2 separate regions of the Homo sapiens genome follow, and region 2 is reported to be linked to region 1. The links are microRNA targets in miRTarBase. Many come from high-throughput screens and were not tested one by one. Region 1 holds a microRNA gene; the other region holds the end of a gene's coding sequence.

Region 1 (3,279 bases):
TCTAGGGAGTGAGAGACACCGGCACTGGCCACCTCCTCATGGCCACACAAACCCACCTGGGTTCCCGAGCTGGCAGGCGAGGGGGTGGGTGTCCCATGTCCAGCCCCCTCAGCCCAGTCCAGGCTCATTTCCCTCTGAGAGTCCCGGCCCCCATGGTAGCGTGCCTAAGCCGTCTCAGGAGAGTCCCTGCGGGCAAGACATAGCCAGTGAGGGTCTGTGCCCCCGCCCTGCCTGCTCTCCCCTCCTTCAAACGGACAGGCACAAAGACCCCCACAGGGGAAAGTCCCAGCGTGTCCATGCCCCACGCCAGTTTGGGGTTCCCGTCCTGGCTGCTGCCCGGGAGCCAAGCTTTAGAGATTCACGCATGGGAGACTCCAGCCCCGGGTCCCAGTGTCTCCAGGAAAGCAGCAGGATCCCCAGGGAGCACCATCAGGCCACACGTGCAGGGGAGAGGGGCTCGGGCTGCCATGGGCGGTGTCCGTGCAATGCTCATTTTTAATTCAGCAGATCAGAGACTGGAGGTGATTTACCGCCAAGCAGGCCGCAGCTCTCTCCCTGTGAACTCTCCAGTTTTACTGCTCAGTCAAACCTAATTCCAAAACACTAATGCTTTTATTTAAACACCACATCCTGCAATAAAGCTTTAATGTACAACAGCCGCATCTAGGGGAAAAGAACGGTGTGTCTGTGGCCACCGGCAGCCTCGGTGGCCACACGCCCGGCTACTTCCCTCCCTGTGGCCGGAGCTGGGAGCAGGCAGGGAAGAGATGACGTCAGCGGATGCTGGGCACTGACCCTCCGGGTCCAGAGGCCGAGAGGAGGCTGTGCCCGAGGTCAACACCCGCCCCCTTGCTGCTACGCCAGATGGGGCTGAGGCTGGGAGAACGAAGTTTCCAGAAGGAAGACCTGAAGGCCAGGAGCCCTGACTGCCAGGCCCTCCCCTCCAGTCACCTCGAGGCTCCCTGAGGGGTGGGAGCCACCTGAAAGCTCAGAACGGCCCCCAATCCCTTTATCCAGCGCTCCCTATGCTGGCCCCAGCTGCTCAGGTGACCTGGCTGCCCCCAGACCCAAGGCCTCCAGCCGCTGCAGGAGGGGGCTGCCTGCCTGTCCCTTCCCGCCTCATTCCTGCCGAAGGCCAGGGTGCGGGAGGTAGGGCACAGGGGCACCGCTGTGGCTGGAGCAGTGCCAAGGCAGAGAGGACACACACCCCAGAAATTAATCCTGAGGCCTGTGGCAGGGTGGGGGTGCCCAGGCAGGGACCTGGCCTCATCCCAGGTGGCAAACGCCTCCAATCTGAGACTCAGAAACGAGCCGGGCAAACGCCCCTCACACAGCAGCCCAGCCGCTGCCTAAGACCCCAGAACCCGCCGCCCATCCTCTCCTTGAAGGACCAGCACTGGGGAAAAGGGTTTCACGGACGGATCCGGACCTGCCCTCATCCCCTGGGCCCCAGGACATCCTCCCAGTCCTTTCTCGGGTCAGGACTGGGATGGCGGCAGAGCAGATGGCTCTCAGGCCCCCGACAGGTGGGGCAAGGGGCCCTGGGCCACACGCTGCTTTCTGCCAAAGCCTCACCTGCATTCACAGCAAAACATGCCTCAGGTTGGATTCGGCGGAACAGAGAGAAAGCTGAACCGGGGCTTTGGTGGGGGTACAGGTTGGGGCGGCATGAACCAGACATTTGGCAAAATCGAACGGCTCCCAGGCCCCTGGGGTGGGCTGTGGGTTCAGGGCTGCACAGACTCAGCTCCTCTGACCCTGTCCCAGGTGCCCTCGGCAGAGGAGTGGGGCCTAAGGGCAGTGGTGGCCCTGACCCTGCCCGCGTCCCCAGCATCTCGTGTGGGCTGCGCCTTCCTTGGAGGCTACATGCCTCCGAGTTCCTCTGCCTTGCCCTACAGCCGGGAGGGCTGGATGCAGGTGCAGGAGGTGCCTTCCCTCCGCAGACTCTACCATGTGCTGCCCAGCCTCTCCCTCCTTTCTGCATCCAGCCACCTGCCCTTTTCCAAACTCGCTCTTGTCTTGTGCCTCTGAGCAGTTTCTGCCCTGGCCACACGTGGCCCTTTCTGCCGGCTGATGGCCTCTTCCAGGATGGCCATCAGTGGAGCCCCCAGAGCCGCCGCCACCACTCCGTGCTTTCCAGCCACGGCCCCGACCCCCCAGCCCTCACCAGCCCCGCGCTGGACCCCGCGCCTGCCGGAGGCCGCCTCCCCTCTGCCGCAGTCAGCAAGCTGAATATTTAATGTCTGGTGAGCACTTCCACCTGCTGACACAGGCAAAGTGACAGAACAATGCTGGCGGGGACACGACCGTCCACCAACGCCCAGGCAGCCTGCCGCCCCAGCCTCACCCCCACCACAGCCGCCTGGCTGGCTGTCGGCCGCGGCGGCCCCCGTGGTGTGGAGTGCCCCTCAGTGCGGCGAGAGAGGTCCCGGCCTGAGATACATACTTCTTTACATTCCATAGCTTAGCAGGTCCATATGGGCATATAAAGAAGTATGTTTCCCAAGCAGGCAGTCTGCATGCAGTTCCAAGACCCCGGGACGCCGCCCCGGTAGAAGCTGACCCCACTGCGATGTAGAGAAGGCAGCTCAGAGGCAGTGTAACTTCTTCCCTGGAGTCTACTGCCGGAGCCCTCTCTGTGTGAGCAGGACAGCCTTCCTGCCACTGCTGCCTGGTGTCCAGCCACCCCCAGGGGCCCAGGACTCCCTGCCCCCTTCTGACCTCGGCGCCCCTCCATCCCTGAATCCATCTCTCTCTGTCTGTCTCACACACTCACACGATCCAGAAAGGCAGAAGTGGACAGTGAGCCCCAGAAAGTCTCGAGCGCCTGTCCCTGGCCCCAGCAGTAGCTCGGTTTTGCGTCCATGGAAGAGACAGGCTGCCCCTCCACCCTCACCCCAGAGCAGGGAGGCATCATCCATGTCCCAAACTTTCAAAGCCAACACTTTCCTGTCCCCCTGGGTCACCTCATCCCAGCCAAGCCCAGAGAGGGCTGGGTGGAGAGAGGAACCTTGGGGGGCGCCCTGCCCAGCACCCCACTCGCAGGACCAGCCTCCTCCTTCTCCGGGAGCTGGACAACTCCTTGCTCCTGAGGCCAGACGAGGAACTGCAGACCAGAGACCCGAGAGGTGTCCTGGGGGCTTACCTGGGCATCTGCTGGTTTCCTGGGCAGGTCCCTGGTGAAGGCTGCCTCCCGGGACCCCGTATCCATGAGGAAGGGCTCAGCACCTCTCTCCGAAGATGCAGGCGAGAAAGACGATGCTTGGAGGAGTCCAGGTT
Region 2 (3,279 bases), not on the chromosome of region 1:
GCAAATTTAATGGTAGACTTAAGCCAAGCTGTGTGGATTCGAGTCTCAGTGCTGCACCTTCCTAGCTGTGCGACTAGGCAAATCCCTTAGCCTCTCTGTGCCTGCCTCAGTTTCCTCACCTCTAGACTGAGGATTAAAAAACATGCTCACTTGCATATTAGGAATGTAATGAGGACAGTGAACGAGCTTATATAAAGCGGCTGTAATGCTCATAGTATGTGCTTAGTACCCAGGAAATCTCAGCTTATTTGCTGCTAACTGATTGCTAAAAATTCAGATTCCTGGGCAGGGTATGGTAGCTCACGCCTGTAAACCCAACACTTTGGGAGGCCGAGGTGGGCGGATCACCTGAGGTCAGGAGTCCAAGACCACTATGGCCTGGCCAATATGGCGAAATCCCGTCTCTACTACAAAATACAAAAATTAGCTGGGCGTGGTCGTGGGCGCCTGCAATCCCAGCTAGAGGCAGGAGAATCACTTGAACCTGGGAGGCAGAGGTTGCAGTGAGCCGAGATCATGCTATTGAACTCCAGCCTGGGCAACAAGAGCGAAACTCCGTCTAAAAAAAAAAAAAAATTCGGATTCCCAGCCAGGAATGATGGCTCACGCCTGTAATGCCAGCACTTTGGGAGGCCGAGGCGGGAGGATCACGAGGTCAGGAGATCGAGACCATCCTGGCTAACATGGTAAAACCCCGTCTCTACTAAAAATACCAAAAAAATTAGCCGGGCGTGGTGGCGGGCACCTGTGGTCCCAGCTACTCGGGAGGCTGAGGCAGGAGAATGGCGTGAACCCGGGAAGCGGAGCTTGCAGTGAGCCAAGATCGTGCCACTGTACTCCAGCCTGGGCAACAGAGCGAGACTCTGTCTCAAAAACAAAACAACAACAACAACAACGAAAAATTAGCTGGGCATGGTGGTGCACGCCTATAATCCCAGCTATGTCGGGAAGCTGAGGCATGAGAATTGCTTGAACCCAGGAGGTGGAGGTTGCAATGAGCCAAGATTTTGCCACTGCACTCAAGCCTGGGTGACAGAGTGAGACTTTATCTAAAAAAAAAAAAAAAAATCAGATTCCCAAGCTCCTCCTTCCCTGGGGATCCTGATTCAATAGGTTGGGACTAGATACTGGGGGATCTGTGATTTGAATGATGCTCCTAAGCAAGTCAGAGGTTCAAATATGTTTGGGAAGTGGAAGGATATGCTCCCTAAATCTTTCAATGATCCCAGGAGGGAAGTACTGTTGTCTTCATTTTGTAGATGAGAAAACCGGCTCAGAGGGAGGACCCACACCAAATAAGTAAAGATGGGACTTGAATTCACAGCCAGGACACCAGGGTGCTTCAGAGAATCCTAGGGGAGCTTACATAAATAATGTGCTAAAGCACAAGAGGCTAAGTATTTGATGAAAGTAGCTAATATCATCACCAAAGAAACCGTTTAAATTGTGCCTCTCACTGGGCATACCACTGCTGGAACAAGGGGGCAGACAGAACCTAACATAAAAGCCTTTTGTCTCCACGACCTGAATTATTTTGCTGGGGGAGGGAGCATGTGGATGAATTGTAGAGGCTGCAAACTGCGGGGAGGAGTGAAGGGATCTGAGGTATGTGAGTGGGTACAAGAACTGGGATATTCAAGAGGAACTGACGGGAAGGATGCCAAGGGAAATCAGACAGATGTGGGACAGACTTATCCCAGAGCCCCAAAATTGATCTCCCCCGTATCAGCATGGAATTGTCTCTGAAGTATCATAGTACTAAGACCCCGGAGAGTCCAGTGAGGGAGGGATGGGGTATGTCGATGGATTGGGAGATGGCTGGGTGAATATGTATGGATGGCAAAATGAGTGGATGAATGGACAGATGGAAATATGGAGGGAGAGACGGACTGATGAACGGAGTGCTGGATGGAGAAGATGGGTAAGTGGGAAGATGGATAAATGGAGGGATGGAATGCCAGATGGGGTTAGAATGATAAAGGGATGGGTGGGTGAATAAGGCAGACAGTTGGATAAGCAAGGCAGATACGTGAGATGATGGATTGGAAGATGGGTAGATGGAGCGGGAAAGCTAGATGGAGCAATAGCCAGATGGATAGGTGGAGAGATGGCAGGGTGGGTGAGATGAACGGATGGTGGGAGACGTGAACTGTATAAATTGCCAAGGGAATGGATTTCTAGTGTCTACTTGAAGCAAAGCTTCTTAACTTGGCTTTCCTGGATGGGCATCAAGCAGTTCACACACACGCCAAGTTATAGTGGGTCCATTTTCCAATAATTCTCAAAGGAGTCTGAGATTCCCCAAGCTTTCAGAACCGCTGATTTGTTCTGTGTCAGACCTTCCCATTCATTGTCTTGTCATCTCCCACAGCCTCCAGAATGGGAAAATACACATCATTGCATGAAAGAATCAGTATTAACAAAACATTAATGACATTCCTCCCTTCCCCATCCCTGTGGATCAAGGCAAGAAGGGCCATTCGCCGATGCAGATACCAGGAGTTGGAAGGCCGCAGCAGTTTTGAGGCCTGCGTTCAGTGTCTGGACTTCCAGGTCAAGTTCTGAGGGTCTATGGCATCTGGCTGAAATCCTTGCTTCAGGGAAGCCTCATGTCCTGGCTCACATGTGGAAGGGGGCATCAGGAGCCCCCTGGGCCCTGTGAAGGCCCATAGATTCCTGTGTGGAGGCCAAGAGAGCAGGGTGGTTCAACCGGACCTGGGCCTTGGCTGGCCGCAGCCGCCCACCCCCGCCCACGTGGATGTTAACCGTCGTGGCATAGCTGAGCCGCCTGGCTGGGGGAGGTGGTGGCTGGGGCTGGGGGGGCGGCGAAGATGCCCGTGACGTGGGAGCAGAGGACCAGGAGCCCCGGGAGGCTGCGGGGGCCCCTCCCCCAGGCCCCTGCCGCCGAGCCAGGCTCTGGCTGATATATGAGGCTGCCAGGTATCTGGAGAGGGCAGCTGCATTGGGGCCCAGGAGCTGACGGCTGGAAGGTGGGGGACTATGAGGTGGCGTCAAGTCTGAAGACTCCAACCTGGCAACGTGAGAGGCTAAGGAGCCTCCTGGTTTGGACAAAACCATGGTGGTCTGAACTGGGGTGGGTGAGAGGCCCTGAATGTCTAGAGAGCCTCCTCTCTCAGGTAAAGGTGTGGCAGCTGGAACATGGGCATCTATGAGGCTCTTCTGCTCCAACGAAGGTGTGAGTTTTTGGACCTGTGTATCTGTAAGGCTTGGCTCCGGAAGTGGAGGTGCAGCCGCTGGACCCTGGATGTCTGGGAGGCT

The links. The annotated mature microRNA hsa-miR-1-3p reads UGGAAUGUAAAGAAGUAUGUAU and lies in region 1 at 2,439-2,460, opposite strand. An mRNA with a match to its seed (bases 2 to 7 or 8) in the 3' UTR can be bound and repressed. Matches are read on the target gene's strand: a 7mer-m8 pairs with bases 2 to 8, a 7mer-A1 pairs with bases 2 to 7 and ends in A, and an 8mer does both.
Region 2: miRTarBase lists PLEKHG2 as a target of hsa-miR-1-3p. Seed matches in the 3' UTR shown: 7mer-A1 at 1,951-1,957 and 7mer-m8 at 161-167.

The regions. Positions count from the first base shown.
Region 1 is chr20:62,553,532-62,556,810 of GRCh38, reverse strand. It overlaps MIR1-1 (microRNA 1-1), which reads right to left and starts at 2,505; the gene lies at 2,435-2,505. It overlaps MIR1-1HG (MIR1-1 host gene), which reads right to left. Exons shown (of 4, transcript NR_171007.1): 2 at 3,146-3,279. RefSeq lists an enhancer at 1-91.
Region 2 is chr19:39,424,635-39,427,913 of GRCh38, reverse strand. It overlaps PLEKHG2 (pleckstrin homology and RhoGEF domain containing G2), which reads right to left. Exons shown (of 19, transcript NM_022835.3): 19 at 1-3,279. The coding sequence ends at 2,620. Among named protein-coding and RNA genes, the nearest start is that of RPS16, 9.7 kb to the left of the region's middle.